Linked DNA regions of Homo sapiens: all the other regions are linked to region 1. The links come from fine-mapping of genetic effects on gene expression. A gene starts in region 1. Each other region holds a variant in brackets. All regions are shown on one strand. Distances are between the middles of the regions. Region 1 holds the start of CCDC69 (coiled-coil domain containing 69). Region 2 overlaps SLC36A2 (solute carrier family 36 member 2). Region 3 overlaps CCDC69 (coiled-coil domain containing 69). Region 4 overlaps CCDC69 (coiled-coil domain containing 69).

Region 1 (5,151 bases):
TTTTTTTTCTTTGAGAGGGAGTCTCGCTCTGTTGCCCAGGCTGGAGTTCAATGGCACAATCTAGGCTCATTGCAACCTCTGCCTCCCGGATTCAAGCAATTCTCCTGTCTCAGCCTCCTGAGTAGCTGAAACTACAGGCACACATCACCACATCCGGCTAATTTTTGTATTTTTAGTAAAGACAGGGTTTCACCATATTGGTCAGGCTGGTCTCGAACTCCTGACCTCAGGTGATCCATCCACCTCAGCCTCCCAAGGTGCTGGGATTACAGGCATGAGCCACTGTGCCTGGCCTACAAAATTTTTTTTTTTTAAATTAGCTAGGCTTGGTGGCAGGCACTTGTGGTCTCAGCTACTCGGGAGGCTCAGGTGGGAGGATCACTTAAGCCTGGAAGACTGAGGCTGCAGTGAGCCATGATCACTCCACCGCCCTCCAGCCTGGGTGATATTGCAAGATCCTGTCTCAAAAAAAAAAAAACTGTTTTAAAATTTCAAAATCTCACCAATACAGTGGTAGTCACTCAATTTTTTTTTTTAATGAAAATGAGTTTGTTATGTTTTGTAACACAAAAAATTCATCTTCATCAGTATTTTTGCTGGTTATGTGGCATTCTATTTTTATGGATATAGCATAATGTATTTAACCAACCTTCTTTTCTTGGCTGTTTAGGTTGTTTTGGGTTCTTTGTTTTTAATCATGAGCACTGTTCCAATAAACATTGTTAATTTTAGTATAATTTAAGTATATCCTGTTTCTTCAGTACCTGTGGAGCACGTCCTATGGCAGGGGTTCTCAAACTTTAGCCCAGGCCAGACATGAGTGGAGTGCTTATGAAGCCATAGATTCCTAAGCCCCATCCCCAGAGTTTAGGCCAGGGGTGGGGCCCGAGAATTTGCATTTCCAACAAAGGCGGCTGGTAGTGCTGACACTGCTGATTTGGGAATCACACTTTGTGAGCCACCATTCTCTATTATACTTGCTTTTGAGAACCTAATAACACGTTTCCTTAGTTTCCTTTCTTACACACTTTTGCAATTGGTTTTGTACCCTATGGAGGGAGCAATTTTTTTGAGGTCTCATATTCTTTCCCCATTCATGACTCTAAGCCGTTTTCACAGCACACCTTTCCAAGAGTTTTGGGCCTGACTTTAATATTCCAATATACACGCAAATAGGCATACACACTGATTTTCAAAATTGGTTATCTTTTTCCTGCATTGCCATTTCAGAAACCTCAGCTAATAACAAAGAGAAGATAAACAAAAGCTCCTTTTCCTAGACACTGACATTTTATGTCCCATAGTCACCATACCTGGCCTGCCTCAAGAGGTTGTTGTGATGAATAACATCTATCCAAGATGGATAGAGTCAAATATTACAGATGCTTGTGAGGTGGAAAAAACTATCAGCCCAGAAGTGAGGAGGCATTAAAATTAAACTTAGTATTATTGGCCAGGTGTGGGATCCCAGGACTTTGGGAGGCCGAAGCGGGCGGATTACCTGAGGTTGGGAGTTTGAGATCAGCCTGGTCAAAATGGTGAAACTCTGTCTCTACTAAAAATACAAAAATTAGTTGGGTGTCGTGGTGCATGCCTGTAATCCCAGCTACTGGGGAGGCTGAGGCAGGAGAATCACTTGAACCTGGGAGGCAGAGGTTGCAGTGAGCCAAGATCGTGCCACTGCACTCTAGCCTGGGCAATAGAGCGAGACTCTGTCTCAAAAATAAATAAATACAATAAACTTAGTATTATGATTTATTTGTAGGCCATTGAGTCAAAGTTTAGGTTCTGGAGTTAGAACTGTATTCTGTGCAGTGGCTCATGCCTGTAATCCCAACGCTTTGGGAGGCCAGGGTGGGAGGATCGCTTGAGGGCGGTCGTTCAAAATCAGACTGGAAAAAAGAAAAGAATTTGGTTGGGTATGGTGGTGAGCCTCTGTAGTCCCAGCTACTCAGGAGGCTGAGCTGGGAGGCTCGCTTGAGCCCAGGAGTTTGAGGCTGCAGTGAACTATGATAGCGGCAAAAAAAAAAAAAAAAAAGGAACTGGATTCTATCTGGGCTGTGGTAACTTACTAGCCATGTGACCTTAGGCAAATCATGTTGCATCTCTGAACACCATTTTCCTCACCTGTAAAATGGAGGAAGTAATACCTTTGTTGCACTGATATGGCAAGAAATAGAAATAAAATGTATAAAACAACTGGGACAAAAACAGCCCTCAATGAATGATAGTTGTTAGTTTATCAAATAATTGCTTTAATTATTTTTTCCCCCGGCCCTTTCTTAGCTGAGGGTTCGGAAAAGCATCTGTTGCTCCTTGAGGTTTTCTTTTCTTCTGCCCTGACCAGAGCTTCCTATTATTTAGAAGGATTCTGGTCACCTGCCTCTGGTGGCGGCGCCGCTGGCCCTGCGGGCTACACTGAGGCCCCGCTCTTCGGGTATTTACGGCGGGCGGCCGCCCCAGCTCAGGCTCAAGACAGCGCTTCCAGGTTCAGTTTCAGGGTCTCGCCGGCAGCCCCAGCCGGCGGGCGCGGAGCGGGCAGCGGGGCCCGGATCGCAGGCTCCTCTGGGGGCCCCGGAGTTGGGAAGCGGCGTCCGGGAGCCCCCGGAGGAGGATGGGCTGCAGACACAGCAGGCTGAGCAGCTGCAAACCCCCGAAAAAGGTAAAGGGCGCCGGCGGAGAAGTTTGCTTTCAGAGGAGAGGGGAGTGCGGAATCGCTCCGCCGCAGAGGACTCGGCGCCCCGGGCTCTCTCTGGTCGGCCCGGGATACCGGACGGAGAACCTGGAGAGGCCAGCTCAGAGACGAGGGAGGCTCTGCTGGGAGGCGCCCTTTACCCCGGCCCGAGCCGCACCAAGCAGCCGAGTTTACAAACACGGCACCCGGGCCAGGGAAAGGCAGCTGATTCCCGCTGCCTCGGGTGGGGAGATGTCGTGTGTCTGTGGCAGGTGCCCTCTGCTTTCGGTCTGGGGCTGTTCGCTGTGTGGCCATGGACAAGTGACTTGACCTCTCTGGGCCTTCGGCTTCCTCCCCCCGGGGGTTAAAGGCTGATAATCTCAGGGCTGCTCGAAGAGTGTTCCACAGACTCGCAGTATCAGCATCCCTGGGGACCTGTCAGAAATGCAGAATCTCAGGCTCAGGCCCAGTCTTGCCAAGACAGAAGCTGCCTTTTAACAATATGCCCAGGTGATGACGCTTTAAAGTTTGAGGCGCTGGTCTTAGGGCTCTTGCAGGCCCCAGAGCTGGTGAGTGTGGGCTGCCCTTGGGGTAGCTGGGAGGGGCCAAAGAGGGAGGAGATCTACTGCGTTCTGTGGCCCTCTCCTCCCTTCCTGTCCTTCCCCCAAGGGGCCTTGGAGCTGGGTCAGGGCCCAGGGGACAATTCTCAGGTTTCTTGCAGTGAGACCAGCTGCCCCTTGGGGTCTGACGAGCCCAGAAGGTCAGAGCCTGGAGCTAGAAAGATAGCCTCCTCAGGGGACACTGTGAGGCAGAGGGGAAGAAGGACCCTCAAATTCTGGCCCCTTTTCTTACCACTACCTGCCCCCTAGCCAGGTGGGACTAGGTGATCCCTTAAACTTTATCATCATTCCCCCTTGAGACCTTGAGAGGCCCCAAACTGTGACAGTGTTTAATAGTTTTGCAATGAACTTTAGTCCTCCCTCTGCTCCTGCTTTGCTTGTGCCCTGAGTACAGGTTTTTCTGCCTAACAGTAGTCCTAGCCTGGAGGATTCTACTCCCTTCTCTGACACCTCCTGGCTTTCCTTGCTCTCCCTTTATTACCAGATTGAAATTCTCACCAACTCCTGACCTAGAAACCCTCATGTCTTTACTCACTCCAACAGGGAAACTGAGGCTTGGCTCTATCAGTAGAAGGAAGGGGCTGGCTGACAGGGATGACAAGGCGGAGAGACCTGAGCCTTGGCTGAGACTTGTAACTGAGCAAGTGGTAGGCAGACATTAGCCCTGGGTGTAAGTCCTGGTGGTGCCATAAACATACTGGGTGACCCCAAGCAAGCCCTTGTGTCTCCCTGGGTCTCAGTTTCTCCCTGTATGGGGAGTGATGAGCAGGATGATCCCTAAGCATCTGAGAGTCTGTGTTCTCTGCACCTGTGTCAACCTTGTAGCTTGCAAAGTGGACCAAGGGTGAATTCCATCTACCTAGAGGTGGAGGAAACGGGGAAGAGCCTGACCCTTCCACAAGCTGGAAGAGGAGGTCACAGTAAGCACAGGTTCTTTGGCTCCTGCTCCTTCTGAGAGACTTACCAGCTGTTCCTGCCTGTCCCTGGCACAGCCAAAGCTCTGAAGGGCAAGTAAAGCTGGCACAGCCTGTCTGAGTTGGAAAGGGCCTTTGGGTACTACCTGGGCTGACGCACCCACTATACAGATAGGAGGTTAAGGCCTAGAAAAGGGAAGGAGCATGACTGAGGTCACAGAGCAACACAGAGCAGAACCCAGGTATCTAGTCCCCTAGCTCCGTGTTCTTTGTCTCCACCTCCTCCCGCTGTGCTTCCAGTGGCTTCTTGATGACTTTAGCGTAAAATCTTTTACTCCTGTTGCCTCAGAGAACAGCCTGGCATGCCTTCTTGGCCCCAGCCATGCCAGGCCCCTGCCCCTATATGGCAAGATTTATGGGCTGTTTTTGTTTAAAGTTCTCATCCCTGTAGGCTGTGCTCCTGCCCAATTTCTCACCCAGGTGCCAACCCCTTGGAAGGCATGAGCTCCCAAGTTCATCCCCAACAGGCTACCAGCCCCCTGGGAGAGAGGGGGACTCCAGGGATGGGATGGACAAAAATGAGCTCAGGCTACAGAGGGGTTAGGTTCTGATAACCATGACTCACCCTGAGTGTTTACAGCATGCTTTCACATCCCGCCCAGTCTCACAGAAGCCCTGGAAGTTAGGCTGAGCTGCAGAATCTTTCCCACTTTACCGGGGAAACTGAGGCTCAGTGAGGAACGATGGGTCCAAAGTCACACAGCCAGTTGGTGGCAAAGCTGTGCAGTTGAGCCTGGCTTTCTGCACTCCCCATCTGGTGCTCATTGCCTTATACAGATCATGGAGCAGGTGCTTAAGTAGATATTTGAGTGAATGAGGGACAAATAAGAGCCATGCTAGGGGTTGGCCCAGGGAGCAGTAGGAGCATCACATCTAGCCTTGA
Region 2 (5,151 bases), 97 kb before region 1:
CACGTGGGTAATTTTTTATTTTTGGTAGTGGTAGGGTTTCGCCATGTTGGCCAGACTGGTCTCAAATTCGTGACCTCAGGTGATCCACCGCCCTCGGCCTCCCAAAGTGCTGGGATTATAGGCGTGAGCCACTGTGCCCAGCATCACACATTTATTAAACATGGAAATGCATCTACTGCATTAGTGGACTGAAGGAAAACAGTCACATCTCAATAGATCAAATAGAAAAAAAACTTAGATAGAACTCAATATCCCTTGAAGCCTCACACACACTCTGCCCCTAGCTTGAGGCTGGCAAGTACCCCTGTTTCTCCTTATATTCCACCCTGACTCCCCCTAACTTCCACACAACCCTATTTATAAACTGTCTCTTCTTCCAAGGATTTGGGATTCTGCAGTTCTCTCAACTAGAGGCAACAGTTATGTGCCTAGAGCTTTGGGGAATCCAGATAATTCCTAAGGACTGATCACAAAGGACTAGAGTCTTTTAGATCCAGGGCTTTTGGTCTTAGCCACTTATCATCTGTGTCTCCCTGGGCAAAGTATCTGGCCTGAGCCTGAGCCTCTCTTTTTTAAAACATAAGATTGAGCATCAGATGGTAGCGATTTGCGAAGGTGCAATACATACTCAAGCTCAAGATGGTTTTTATTTCATTTAGAAATGACCCTTTCCATTGTTTCCACTGAATCCAGAACCGCACTATTTTCACTGCATGCTCTGCTGTGACTCCCTCTTGATTCTTAGAAGGTCCCTCTCAGTCATTTTCAGAAAGGGAAACAAAAGCCCAAGTCATTGTCCCAAGGTCAGAGGTTAATGTTCCAAGGAGGCCAGTGTCAGAACACAGTGGCCGTGGAGAGCAGCTCTGTGGTTTGTCTTGCAGGCTGTACCAGTCTGTCAAGCTTCTCTACATTGCCGGCATCCTGTGCACCTATGCCCTGCAGTTCTACGTCCCTGCAGAAATCATCATCCCCTTTGCCATCTCCCGGGTGTCAACACGCTGGGCACTGCCTCTGGATCTGTCCATTCGCCTCGTCATGGTCTGCCTGACATGTGAGTAGAAAGGAGAGTGCAGTGTTCCTGCTGATCTTTTCTGAGGGCTATAAAGAATCAGCCAGATGGGCCGGATGCATTGGCTTACACCTGTAATCCTGGCACTTTGGGAGGCCGAGGCGGGTGGATCACCTGAGGTCAGGAGTTTCAGACAAGCCTGGCCAAAATGGTGAAACCCTGTCTCTACTAAAAATACAACAATTAACCAGGCGTGGTGGCACGTGCCTGTAATCCCAGCTACTCAAGAACCAAGGCAAGAGGATCACTTGAACATGTAGGGCAGAGGTTGCAGTGAGCCGAGATCGTGCCACTGCACTCCAGCCTGGGCAACAGAGCAAGATTCATCTCAAAAAAAAAAAAAAAAGAATCAGTCAGATGGTAGAGGGCAGTCATGACAATCAGCATTTACTGAGCACTTACTGTATTCCAGGGACCATTTTAAAGCTTTACAAGTATTCACTCATCTAAACAACCCCATTCTTACATGTACCTAATTAGACAGATTTGTTGGTGTTCAGCCTAAGGGATTGACACAGCTTATCAAACAATAACTGTAAGAACTTGCTGCGCACTCTGGCACATGCCTGTGATCCCAGCACTTTGAGAGGTCAAGGCAGGCGGATTGCTTGAGTTCAGGAGTTTTGAGACCAGCCTGGACAACATGGTGAAACCCCATCTCTATTAAAAAAAAAAAAAAAAAGAAAGAAAAGAAAATAGCCAGGCATGGGTGCCCCATGTTTGTAGTCCCAGCTACTTGGGAGGCTAGGGTGGGAAGATTGCTTGAGCCCAGGAGGCTGAGGCTGCAGTGAGCTGAGATTGAACCATTGCACTCCAGCCTGGGCAACAGAGTCAGACCCTGTCTCAAATATATTAATAAATAAATAAATAAATAAATAAATAAATCATAAGAACTGACATGTATTGAACACTTACTGTGTGCCAGGCACTGTGTTCAGCTCTTTCTAGTCTAGATTTCATAATATTTTATTCAGTCCTCACAACAATTATCATGAGGTAGAACTATGATAAACCCTACTTTATGAAAGA[G/C]AAAACTGAGGCAGTGAGTGATTAATAATTGGCCAGAAAGTGTCAGAGGTAGGATTTGAATTCAAGTCATGTAAGTCTAGAGCCAGTGCCCTTCACCTCCAGGGCAGACATTGAAAATGGGACTCTAATTTGGCAACAGGTGTTGTTTGAACCTCACAATGTTGTATAAAGTGGGCCAACATTTAAAATGTGGGCAATCTCCATACAAATGCAGATTTTTAAAATTTTTTGGTGGGGCTACTATAAAATGATTGGGCAAGGCTGGGATCACATTCCCCATCGGCAACAATCAGCTGGGGCTCCTTGACCCCTGGACGGTCCTGTGCTTGCCTATTGGCTGAGGTCATTCCCACTCCCTGGCTCACAGCAGCCCCCATGACCCGGAGTACCCCTTTCTGCAAGTATTCCACCAGAGGCCGAAGGAGATGGCTAGAGATTCCTGTGTAGAGTAGAGGTGGCCCAGCTGTCCCTAAGATGCCTTTTGATTGTAATTGCAAAAGTGTCTTCTTTTTAAGGCCAAATTGTATTCCACTGTACGTAGAAACCACATTTTCTTTATCCATTCATCTGTCCATGGAAATTTAGGAAATTCTTTTTTTTTTGCATAACAAAGTGTTACTTTTAGATAATTATCAGTACACCGAGTAATAACATGTAACGAGTTTTTGAATTCTACCATCTAGTAATTTTGATTCAGAGAAACTAAAAGCAGCCCAAACAGTTATGCTAGTATTCATTATTCTAACCATTAGCAGGAATGGACTAATTTAAGGGTGGCTGCTGCTTCACACAGATTACAAATAACCATTTACTACTTTTTCATGGTTAGAATCCTGACATTCAAGAAAGCACTACAGGGAAAAAAAAAATATTAATCTCTTTCTTCTTCAAAGAACTTTTTTTTACTAGAAAAAAGAAAGAAAAAGTCAACATTGATACACTGATACATATGTTACTTCAGCTAATAGGCATGGGAAAACATGACATATACCCATTAAATTTCTACGAAATACGATGTAAAAAGAAAATCTATAGATAAGTTCTAAGTCTGTACAAAGAAGCTAGATTTTATATTCTCTGAGATGTGAAGGGACCTGCTATATAATATACAGAAATCATTTAATGCCTTTTCATAAGAATATATCTCAAGCTGCATATTCCTCGAGGGCATCTAAAATGCCAATCTGTGGTACAGGCGCTTCTTTCTCCCACTCTTCTTCATTTATGCAGCAGTTTTCATGGATTTCTGTCCAGGTGTCACAGACAAAAGCCAAGAGACTAGCCAAGCCTTCACCCCCATTCTGCTGGAAGTAGTTCTGGAGGCTGGTCCTCTTCTTCTGACCCTCCTGTGCCACTTCAGTGCCAAGGCTGCTGTGAGATTCCAGGGCTGCAGCTTCCTTGGTCTTGAACTCTTTCTCCCTCTGCAGGCAGTGCTGTTCAGTTTCAGTTCAGCAGTTGAAGCCTCAGCTGCTTCCTTGGCCTGCTTCAGCCTCTATGTTTTTGCTCACACTTGGACACCTTCTCAGTGGCTGCATCTTGGCCTGCAGCAGCTGCTGGATCCCCTGAGACTGGCTGAAGTGGCTGTTGATTTTCACTTTTCTAGGCCAGCCCACAGCATTCATTCGACACTGATTTTCTTTTTTTGAAGTGATTAGTTCTCAATTTGACCTTGAATGCAGGAACTATCCAGTATCTTACATATTCCAGACAGATCAAGGAATTTGCCCCACAGTATAAAGATAACAATCCCTTAAGCCTACACTACACTTCTTCATGCATTGTCAATTAGCATGTATGAGTAAATAACTTGGAGTAATAGCAAAGATAACTTTTCTGAATGCTTTACATGAAAAATCTCATTGAAGACTTTTATGTCCTATGCAGAATGAATCACAATACCTAAAAGGATAGTAGCCTTCATCTCCATTTTGCAGCTGAGGAAACAAGCTGAGGAAGGGGTGGGACTTGGGCAAGGCCATACAAGAATGAACCAGACTCCTGCCTTCCAGACCTGTTCTGTTCTACCACACTCCTCCAAAGGAGGCCTGCTCAAGGCTCCTGGGATTTATTGGTGACCAGGAACATTTTTCATCAAATATAATAAAAAATGTAAAAGCCCAGGTCTGTAAAACGTCCTGCTAAAAAAATATAATTTCAAAATTTTTAGCTTTTCGTGTTTCTTTGTTAGGGGTTTTCTGACATGTGTATAAAACCTGGAGAAGACACTTCTTTAAAGACACCTCCCGGATTTTCTTCCAACTGAAGATCTCTTTGTATTATAAATAATTTCATATTCTAATTGTTTGCAAGTAAAAGGTTCTTATACTCATGTTAATTATTTATTAAAATTCTAGGCATTTTAAAAAATAATTTATTTATTTATATTATTTATATTTATTATATTTTTATATATATAAAATATTTATTATATATAAAAATATATTTTATAAATAAATATTTATAAATAATTATTATATTTTTATTTATTATTTATTTTTATTATAGATAAAATATATAAAATATATTTTATTTATATATAAAATAAATAATAAATTTGTATTATTTATTTATATTATTTATATTATTTTTTATTTATTAAAATGCTAGGCATTTTAGAAGACTTCTAAAAAATTTGTACATTGATACAAATTTTGATAGTACAAACATTGACAGTTTGTACATTGATATATTCCAAACAGCTTGAATGGTTCCCAGCACTGTTATTTAGTGTTATTTATTAAGTAAGAGCTTAAGTTTTGTTGGATATGTAAGGATCCAAAATGCACCTCGGTAGCATAAAGATTATTTTAAGCTAAAAATGCCTGAACAAAAAGAAGCTGCAGAAAGAAACTTTGTCTAATCTTCTTTTGCTGATGTAAGCGGGACCTCCTGACAAATATAGCTGCCATAAATCCCTTCTCTGGGAAGTTTAGAGCCAGAAAAGAGACTTAGCATTATCATGGGAATTACTAACTGTTTAACAAATTTTATCTGAAACTGTCATATCTTCCATTTGTTCTTCCATAAAAGCCCTTTCTCCTCCCTCCTTTTCC
Region 3 (5,151 bases), 23 kb after region 1:
CTCACTGCAACCTCCGCCTCCCAGGTTCAAGCAATTCTCCTGCTTCAGCCTCCCGAGTAGCTGGGATTACAGGCGCCTGCCACCATGCCCACCTAAATTTTTTTGTATTTTTGGTAGAGACGGGGCTTCACCATGGCCAGGCTGGTCTCGAACTCCTGACCTTAAGTGATCTGCTCACCTCGGCCTCCCAAAGTGCTGGGATTACAGGTGTGAGCCATCGCGCCTGGCCTACATTTCCTTTTGTGCACAAGCAAGCAGGATAAGGTGGTAGTTAGGAGTATTTGCTGTGGAAACAGATTGTGTAGGTTCATATCCCTGCTCCCTTAATTTTGAACTGGGTGACTTTGAACAAGTTGCATGACTCCTCTGAGCCTCAGCTTCCTCGTCTGTAGCATGGGGGTAATAATATTACTCACGACTATAGGGTAGCTGTGAGGAGCAGGTGAGTCATCCCTCTGAGGCACTTGGAACAGTGCTGGACATGTTGCAGGCATGGTAAGCTCTCAGTCCTCCTATCCTGCTTTTACTATTTTTATTGCCATTGTTTCCTGATTTAATCATCTCAGCCTCACTCATGTGGTAGGTGCCATAATTATCCTGATCCCATGTATTAGGTAACTGAGGCACAGAGAGGATGGCCACTGCCTTAGGTCATACCTAGTATCTGATAGACTCAGTGTGGCATTGGCAGGTCCTGTTTTGGAGTTTCCCGAAGCAGGGGCTAGACTTCCTGTTTGTGTTTCCTTCCTGCTCTCAAGTAGCACCCTCTACTACCAGCTGAGGAGACGCTAAAGGTGAGGGGCCACAAACTCAGATGCTCATGGGCCCCAGCAGGTAAAGCAAATGACATGTGGCCCTTTGTATACATTTTTAATAACAGCAGGAGGTGAAGACTATAGCCAACTGCAGAGCCCTATCCTGGCCGGCCAAAGAGGAGGCAGCTGCTTCTGGCTCCAGCCCCTGGTTGACATGAAGGCATACATTGCCAGTTCTTCTTTGGATTCTTCAAGAAAAATTGGAAATCAGAATTATTAAGTAAAAGCTTCCCAGTTATTAAGTATCAACAACTAATTTTTAAATTATTATTATTATTTTAGAGACAGGATCTCGCTCTGTTGCGCAGACTGGAGTGCAGTGATGCAGTCATAGCTTACTGCAGCCTTGAACTCCTGTGCTCAAACCATCCTCCTGCTTTGGTCTCCCTAGTAGCTGGGACTGCAGGTGCATGCCATCATGCCCAGCTTTTTTTTTTTTTTTTTTTTTTTTAGAGATAGGGTCTCACTATGTTTCCTAGTCTGGTCTCCAACTCCTGGTCTCAAGTGCTCCTCCCACCTCAGCCTCCCAAAGTGCTGGGACTACAGGTGTGAGCCACCATGTCTGGCCAGCGACTAATTTTTTAAAAAATGGGGTAGAACAGGGAGACCAGAGGACAAAATGAGACCATTGGCTTATTCCTTGAAAGAGGATCTCCAAGTCCAAAGAGACTCGAGGGGCTGTCTCTGGAGACTGGTCCCACTCGAAATCATTCTTGAGGCAGAGACCAGAAGACAAAATGAGACCATTGGCTTATTCCTTGAAAGAGGATCTCCAAGTCCAAAGAGACTCGAGGGGCTGTCTCTGGAGACTGGTCCCACCCGAAATCATTCTTGAGGCAGAGACCAGGGTTCTCATCCCTTAGCCCCATTTCCCACACTCTCTCTGCCAGCTCTGACTGTACTTCCACTCTGTGAGTTTTTTTATTTTTATTTTTTTGCTTTTTCATCTCTAGCTATAACTGTCCAGCTCTGTGCATCAGAGGAGGCTGAGCGGCACCAGAAGGATATAACCAGAATTCTCCAGCAACATGAGGAGGAAAAGAAGAAATGGGCACAACAGGTAAGTCCAGGTGCCCCCACCCCCTGTCTTTCTCCTGCTCAGCTAACTTTGGTGAATCCCAGAGTGAGTGCCTACCTTAGGTTTTTGTTGCTGTTGTAAGAGTCCCTTACTCATTTTACCAGGAAGGGAGTCCTTTATCTGTTGAACACATATTTTTATCAGGGCACTGTGTGCTGGGCACATTGGTTAAAACAAGCAGAGCTGGCAGCTGCTTTCACGAAGCTGAGAGTCTATTTGGGAAGAGTAAAAGCTGTTGATGCCACTAGATTAATTGCCTTTCTGGGCCCACCTCATGGTTGGGTGGGACCACGGAACTCGTTCTGGCTGATGCGTTATAGAAAGAAGAACCAGTGTCACTTCTAGGGCAAGCATTTAGTTGCCAGTTCAAGACCCTCAAGGTCTTTCTGTCTAGCTAAGTGACGGGACTGTTGTAATGGCCGCT[C/G]TATCAGCCTGATCTCTGGGTGATTATCCCTGGATAATCCTGGATAATCCCTGGCAGCAGAGCTCCCTGCCACACAAAATGGGTAGGTAGTGAGGGCAAAATAAACATTTTGTCTTAAGCCACTGAGACTTTGTCATTGTTTGTTATGGCAGCATAATTTAGCTTATATGACTGAGATGGGACATCAGATGCTAAACACAATTACACAGAAATACTTACTGCAAATATAAGTGCTATGAAAAGTTTACAGTGCCGTGAAAGGACATAATAGAACCCTTAACCAAGGCTGTGGGATCAGAGAAGGCTTCTCTAAAGGGATGACACGGAGGCTTTAAAATTACCCAGAAATGAAAATTGAGGGACATTCTACAGAATTTCCAGCCTATATTAGTCAAATGTCAAGGCCATGAAACATGAGGAAAGACTGGGGAACAATTCTAGATTGAAGGACACTAAAGTGATGGGATGACTGAATGTAACCTGCAGCCCAGGATTTCCTTTTCCTCATTCTAACTTGGTCACTCACCCTTCACCTCTCTTTGCCTCCATTTCTTCCTTTACCAGAGGGAATGGGTAGAGCAGCAGGAAAGATTTGGTGGTGTACACAAGTTTTCTCTAAATTTTCTTTAGTTTAAATTATAAATATGAAATATGTTCAGGGTAAATATTCAAAATTCTGAAATTTAAAGTCACTGCTTTAAGATAGATCTGGGCCAGGCATGCCTATAATCCTAGCACTTTGGGAGGCCGAGGCAGGCAGATCACCTGACGTCAGGAGTTCGAGAACAGCCTGGGCAACATGGCGAGACCACCGTCTCTACAAAAATACAAAAATTAGCCCAGCCTGGTGGCACATGCCTGTAATCCCAGCTACTTGGGAAGCTGAGGCAGGAGAATCACTTGAACCTGGGAGGCAGAGGTTGCAGTGAGCTGAGATCTCACCACTGCACTCTTGCCTGGGTGGCAGAGCAAGAATCCATCTCAAAAAAAAAAAAAGTCTCCGTAGTTATAAACTAATCACTCTATTAAATCACATGGTTATTTATTACTGAAAGATTTTCTGCTAGATTTTATTCACCCAGTCGACTTGCTGGGGGAGATTACTATGTGCGGGGAGGGTGCGGCCTCAGCACTGCCAGGGGTACAGGGAGAAATCGGGTCCAGACCCTGCCCTCAGGTGTTCGCTGGGTGGAAGGCTGTGGCAAGTGCCCCCACACACATTAAAATGGTTTTAGCTTAGACGCATTTTTCAGAAACACACCTTTTATGAAAGGTAAGTTAACTGTATGCAGCTGCTGGTCTTTAGTTTGTTTTGGTAGAGTTACCATGGTAATGTCATTTGGCCCTGACCATTACCTGTGGAATCCTTAACCTTGAGACTTGTAAGGGCCCCAGGTATTGTCAAGTTGAGTCCCTTCATTATACAGTGGAGGGAGCTCATTACCCAGGAACTCAGTGGTATGCTGGGGCTAGAATGCCTAATTTAAGTCATGCCTTGCCTCTGGATATGCCCCATCAGCTGTACCTTACAGGTGGCAAAGGGACTGGAAAACATCTCAAGTGGGGGACAATGAGAATGGCTGGGAGGGTTCAGCCTGGGGAAGAGAAATGTTGGGAATATGGGCCACTATGCTCAGATCTCTGAGGGGCTGCCTGGGTTGAGGGAACAGTCTGGCTCTGTGTGACCCCAGAGGGCAGATCTGGGACCTGATGGTAGAAGTTGGAGGTCACTTGAAACAGTAAGCCTTACGCAAGCAGAGAAACACCATGGGAGGCTTCCTGCCTTGAGGAAGCATCAGGATTAGAATACTCCTAAATCCTTTTCCATGTGGATAATTACATGGGAACCCCCTGCTAAACCCTAAAGAAGGCAAATTCTGCCACGCTTGCTGTGTCTTGGAAGTCTTGTGTCCTTTCTGGGCGTGTCATTCCCATCCCTCAGAGGAAGGGTTAGGACTCTGGTCACCAAGTTCCACGTAGGCCCAGGTGAGGGGATAAGAGATGCTGTGCTGATCCTGCTCAATCTCAGTCCTGCCCGGGACTCTCTGCCCCCAGGTGGAGAAGGAAAGGGAGCTAGAGCTTCGAGACAGACTGGATGAGCAGCAAAGGGTCCTGGAAGGAAAGAATGAAGAGGCCCTGCAAGGTAAGGGTAGAGATGTTCCACTGGCCAAGGTGGTGGGGGGTGCTTCCTTCTGGCCCCACCTGCCCAGTTCACCTGGGCACTCCCACTGTTCCCTCCCTGTCTGTCTGATCCACAAGCAATTGACTCAAATCTACAGGATCCTTGGCCCTAGAGGGTTGATGGACTTTTCCTTTGGGGCATGGATTTAAGAGGCTGGCATCAACCTTTCTTTTTCCTTATTTGAGAGGTATTTTTTTCTTTCCATTTAAAAAGCAATCCATATTTATTAAGGGAAATTTGGAAAACCCAGACAAATAGAAGAATTTTTAAATACACATATTCCATCCCCACGATGATGGTAGCTCTTATTTATTGTTAGATTGATTATTTTGAAAAATGACTTTCTTTCCTCTTATATCACCAAAGGTGATCATCACAGAAAATTTGGAAACTGTAGATTAGACAAAAAGATCTTACAGCACAGTGGTTAACGTCTCATTCTTGGCTGGGCATTGTGGCTCACGCCTGTATTCCTGGCACTTTGAGAGTCCAAGGTGGATAGATTGCTTGAGCCCAGGAGTTCAAGACTAACCTGGGCAACATAGCAAGATGCTGTCACTATTAAAAATAAATAGATAGATAGATAGATATCAAACTTTCCAGTTTGGTAAGATAGATAGATAGATAGATAGATAGATAGATAGATAGATAG
Region 4 (5,151 bases), 32 kb after region 1:
GCATTTTCATAAATTCTAATGCATGTATAGATTCTTTTTTTTTTTTTTTTTTTTGAGATGGAGGCTCGCCCTGTCACCCAGGCTGGAGTGCAGTGGCGTGATCTCGGCTCACTGCAACCTCCGCCTCCCGGGTTCAAGCAATTCTTTGCCTGAGCCTCCCGAGTAACTGGGATTACAGGCACGTGCCACTATGCCCAGCTAATTTTTGTATTTTTAGTAGAGACAGTGTTTCACCATCTTGGTCAGGCTGGTCTTCAACTCCTGACCTCGTGATCCACCCGCCTTGGCCTCCCAAAGTACTGGGATTACAGGTGTAAGCCACCGCGCCCTGCCGCATGTATAGATTCTTGTAACCATCGCCACAATCAGGATACACAACAGTTTTATCACTCCCAAAAAGCCGTCTCAAAATACCCTTGTATTCACATCCTTCTCCCACCCTAACCCCTGGCAATTACTGATCTGTTCTCCATCTCTGTAGCTTTGTCTTTTCTAGGCTATTACATAAATGAAATAATACAATATGATTTTTTATATTGGCTTCCTTCATGCATCACGATGCCTTTGACATTCATTCCAATTGTTGCATATCTCAATAATTCATACATTTTCATTGTGGAGTTATATTCCATTGTTTACTCATTCACTGTTGCAGGACATTTGAGGCAATTATGAATAGAGCTGTTCTAACATTCATGTGCAGGCTTTGTGTGGACATAGGTTTTCATTTATCTTGGGTGAATACACAGGAGTGGGATAGGTCATATGATAAATGTATGTTTAGCTTTATGAGAAACAGCTAAACTGTCTTCCAGAGTGACCACTATTTTATATCACCATCTGTGATGTATGAGTTATACCGTTGCTACTTCATGCCAATACTTGCTGTCACTGGTTTTTTATTTTAGCTGTTCTAATAGGTGTGCAGTAATCTTCACCATAGGTTTAATTTACATTTCAATAACAACTCATGTGCTTATTTGCTGTCTACATATCCTCTTTGGTCAAATGTGTGTTCAGGTCTTTTTCCCATTTAAATTAACTTGCTTGTCCTTACTGTGGAGTTTTGAGATATCTTTATATATTTTGGACAAGAGTTCTTTGTATTTGCACATATTTTCTCCTAGCCAGTGGGGTGATTTTTTTCATTCTGTTAATAATGTCTTTCACAAAGCCAAGCTTTTAATTTTGATAAAGTCCAATTTATTTTTTTCTTTGATTATACTTCTTATGTCATGTCTGTGAACTCTTTGCTAAACCCCAGGTAACAAAGATTTTCTTCAATGTTTTCTTCCAAAGCCTTATGGTTTTATATTTAGATCTAAGATCCATATAATCATGTGGTCTTTCTTTCTCTCTCTCTTTCTTCTTTCTTCCTCTTTTTTCCCTCTCCTCTCCTCTCCTGTCTTCTTTTTTCTTTTCTTTTCTTTCCAACAGGATGTCACTCTGATGCCCAGGCTGGAGTGCAGTGGTGCTATCTTGGTTCACTGCAGCCTCCACCTCTGGGGCTCAGGTGATCCTCCCACTACAGCCTCCCAAGTAGTTGGGACTATAGTGCACATCACCATGCCTAGCTAATTTTTTTTTTTTTTTTTTTTTTTTTGTAGAAATGAGTTTTTGCCATGTTGCCCAGCCTGGTCTCAAACTCAAATGAACCACTGGCCTTTCCCTCCCAAAGTGCTGGGATTGCAGGTGTGAGCCACCGCATCTGGCCTGGTTTTTCTTTAGATGGTTAATATAGTGGATTACATTTGTTTGAGTTTTCAAATATAGTTATCCCTAGGTATCCATGGGGAATTGATTCTCGGACCCACTTTGGATACCAAAATCTGCAAATGCTCCAGTCACTTATATAAAATGGCGTATTATTTGCATATAACCTATGTACATCCTTCCATACATTTTAAATCATCTCTAGATTCCTTATAATACCTAATACAATGTAAAAGTAAGGTGAATAGTTGTTAGACTGTATTTTTATTTGTATTATCTTTTATTGTTGTTTGGTATTTTTTATTTTTATTTTTTCAAATTTTTTTTATCCACACTTGGTTGAATCTGAGGATGGGAAACCTGCAAATACAGAAGGCTGACTGCATTGAACTAGCCTTGCATTCCTGGCATAAGCTCCACTTGGTTGTGTTATATTACTCTTTTTATGTATTGCTGAATTTGATCCTCTAATGTTTTACTGAGAATGTTTGTGTCTATGTTCATGAGGAATATTGGCCTGTAGTTTTCTTACACTATCTGGTTTTAGTATCAGGATAAAGCTTGCCCCATGTAGTAATGTCCCCTCATCTTCTCTTTCTGGGAGAGATTATATAGAATTGGTGTTATATCGTTTTTAAATGTTTAATCGAATTTTTCAATGAAATAATCTGTGCTTGGGCATGTCTTTCAAAGTGTTTAACAACAAATTCAATTTCTTTTTAATATTTAAAGGAATTTCAGGTTATATACTTCACCTTGGGTGAGTTTTGGTCATTTTTTTTTTTTGAAGAATTGTTACATTCATCTAAGTTGTTGAATCTAGGTGCATAGGATTGTTCAGCATATTTCCTTAATATCATTTCATATATCTGCTGTGTCTGTAGTGATATTTCATTCCTGATATTGGTCATGTGTATGTTCTCTCTTTTCTTTGTCAGTCTTGCTTGAGGTTATCAATTTTATTAATTATTTCAAAGAACCAGCTTTTGGTTTCATTGATTTCCCCACCCACCCCCCTTATTTTACCATTTTCCATCTCACTGGTTTCTGTTATTTTCATTTCCTTCCTTCTGTGTGCTTGCTTTATATTTGGTTAGCTTTTTTTTTTTTTT[A/TA]TTTCTTTTCATTCTTTTTTTTTTTTTTTTTTTCCTGAGACAGGGTTTTGCTCTGTCTCCCAGGCTGGAGTACAGTGTCATGATCATAGCTCAGGGCAGCCTCAAACTCCTGGAATCAAGCAATCTTCCCACCTCAGCCTCCTGAGTAGTTGAGACTATAGGTACCCCACCACACCTAGCCAGCTAATTTTTAAATTTTTAACAGAGGCAGGTCTCTCTATGTTACCCAGGCTGGTCTCAAATTCCTGGTCTCAGCAGTCCTCCTGACTCCGCCTCTCAAAGTGCTGGGATTACAGGTGTGAGTCACTGGGCCTGATACCTTTTCCTGATTTCTTCAGCTTAGAATATTGATTTGAGACCTTTCTCCTTTTCTAATATAAACATTTAAGCTATAAATTTTCTCCTAAACTCTGCTTTACCTGCATCCTACATATTGATGGTTTTATTTTCATTTTGTTGAGTTCAAAATATTTTCAGTCTTATTTTCCTTGAGACTTCCTCTCTGGCATTGAATATGTGGAAGTGCATTTCCAAGTGTTGGGAGATTTTCTGGTTCTCTTTCTGTTATTTGATTTCCAGTTTGATTGCATTACAGTCAGAGAACATAGTTTGTATTTTGCTGCTTTTATAGTTTGTTAAGGTTTGTTTCATGACTCAGGGTATGGTCGATCTTGTTTCATGTATACTTGAAAGGAATGTGTATTCTGCTATTGTTGGGTTGAGTATTTTAGATATAAATCAATTAGATAAAGTTTGGTTAATGTTAGTATTCAGTTCTATATTCTTGCTGATTTTCAGGCTGTTTTATGTGGAATGCTGAGGAGTGTTGAAGTCTCCAATTATAATGCATATTTGTCTATGTCTCCTTTCAGTTCTTTATCTGCAAATCATATAGCTACTATGACTTTCTTTTGATTAGTGTTTCTTTTTCCACCCTTTTACTTATTACCTACCTATAACATCTATTTACAGTGGGTTTCTTGTAAATAGCACGTAGTTAGTTGGTGGGTGGTTTTTTTTTTTAATTTCAACTTTAATTTTAGATTCAGGACACACATGCAGGTTTGTTACACGGGTATAGTACATGATGCTGAGGTTTGGGGTATGAATGATCCCATCAGGTGGGTTTTTAAAAACCCATTCTGACATACTCTGTGTTTTATTTGGTATGTTTAAGCCATTTAATTTACTGTTGTTATTGATAATGTTGATGTTCATAATGTTGGGTTGAAGTCTACCATTTTAGGATGTGTTTTCTGTTTGTTCTCGCTGATCTTTATCCTCTGTTTTCCCTTTCCTGCTTTTTTTTTGAGTATTTGAACATTTTTTAGTGTTCCATTTTAACTTATTTATTGTCTTTCTTACTGTATCTCTGTATTTTTTTTAATGGTTACTCTAAGAATTACAATATACTTAACAATCTACTTAGAGTTCCTTTTTTTTTTTTTTTTTTTTGAGACAGAGTCTTGCTCTGTCACCCAGGCTGGAGTGCAATGGCATGAGCTGGGCTCATTGCAAACTCTGCCTCCTGGGTTCAAGCGATTCTCCTACCTCAGCCTCCCAAGTAGCTGAAATTACAGGCACCCACCACCAGGCCCAGCCAATTTTTGTATTTTGGGTAGAGACCGGGTTTCACCATGTTGGCCAGTCTGGTCTGGAACTCCTGACCTCAGATGATCCACCCACCTTGGCCTCCCAAAATGCAGGGATTACAAGTGTGAGCCACCACGCCCGGCCTGAAATTGCTATTTTACCACATCTAATGGAATGTAAAAAGCTTACCGTCATGTAGGTTCCTCTGTTCTCTCCCATTTTTGTTACATTTATCTCATGTATTACATCTACATACATCTAATGCCCCATCAGACAAGGTTATAATTTTTGCATTTAATCATCAATCATATTTTAAAGAGCTCAAGGGAAGAACAGTCTATTGTATTTACTTAGGTCTTTACCAGTTCTGTTACTCTTCCTACATTCTTGAAGTTTCAAGTTTCAAGTTTCCCTCTGGTTTCATTTGAAGAATTTCCTTTAGCAATTCTTTTAGAGCAGGTTTGCTGGTGATGAATTCTAAGTGTCCTTCATCTGAGAATGTCTCGATTTAATCTTCTTTCCTGAAGGATATTTTCACTGCATATGGGATTCTGGGCTTTTTGTTATGGTTTTGTACTCCAAAAGAAAGCAGGAAAGAGAAAACAGAGGATAAAGATCAGCGAGAACAAACAGAAAACACATCCTAAAATGGTAGACCTCAACCCAACATTATGAACATCAACATTTTCCAGCAGTTTTTAAATTTTTTTCTTCTGGTCTCTAAGGTTTCTAA

Evidence for each region. PIP is the estimated chance that this variant, and not a neighbour inherited with it, causes the effect.
Region 2: its variant is the best candidate, but not a certain one, in a credible set for the expression of CCDC69 in whole blood (INTERVAL, PIP 0.69).
Region 3: its variant is the best candidate, but not a certain one, in a credible set for the expression of CCDC69 in lung (GTEx, PIP 0.69).
Region 4: its variant is the best candidate, but not a certain one, in a credible set for the expression of CCDC69 in whole blood (INTERVAL, PIP 0.69).

What each region holds. Positions count from the first base shown.
Region 1 is chr5:151,221,434-151,226,584 of GRCh38, reverse strand. It overlaps CCDC69 (coiled-coil domain containing 69), which reads left to right and starts at 2,493. Exons shown (of 9, transcript NM_015621.3): 1 at 2,493-2,662. The coding sequence starts at 2,615. It overlaps LOC105378230 (a long non-coding RNA gene), which reads right to left. Exons shown (of 4, transcript NR_160730.1): 4 at 2,235-3,109. RefSeq lists silencers at 763-1,057, 2,541-2,620 and enhancers at 2,741-2,940, 2,961-3,070, 4,491-4,710.
Region 2 is chr5:151,317,946-151,323,096 of GRCh38, reverse strand. SLC36A2 (solute carrier family 36 member 2) reads left to right here. Exons shown (of 10, transcript NM_181776.3): 9 at 882-1,051. It also overlaps the pseudogene ATP6V1G1P5. Among named protein-coding and RNA genes, the nearest start is that of SLC36A3, 17 kb to the right of the region's middle. The variant G/C (reference allele first, on the strand shown) is at 2,099.
Region 3 is chr5:151,198,306-151,203,456 of GRCh38, reverse strand. It overlaps CCDC69 (coiled-coil domain containing 69), which reads left to right. Exons shown (of 9, transcript NM_015621.3): 3 at 1,769-1,875; 4 at 4,373-4,460. Among named protein-coding and RNA genes, the nearest start is that of CCDC69, 23 kb to the left of the region's middle. The variant C/G (reference allele first, on the strand shown) is at 2,318.
Region 4 is chr5:151,189,795-151,194,945 of GRCh38, reverse strand. The region is part of intron 4 of CCDC69 (coiled-coil domain containing 69); the gene reads left to right. Among named protein-coding and RNA genes, the nearest start is that of CCDC69, 32 kb to the left of the region's middle. The variant A/TA (reference allele first, on the strand shown) is at 2,826.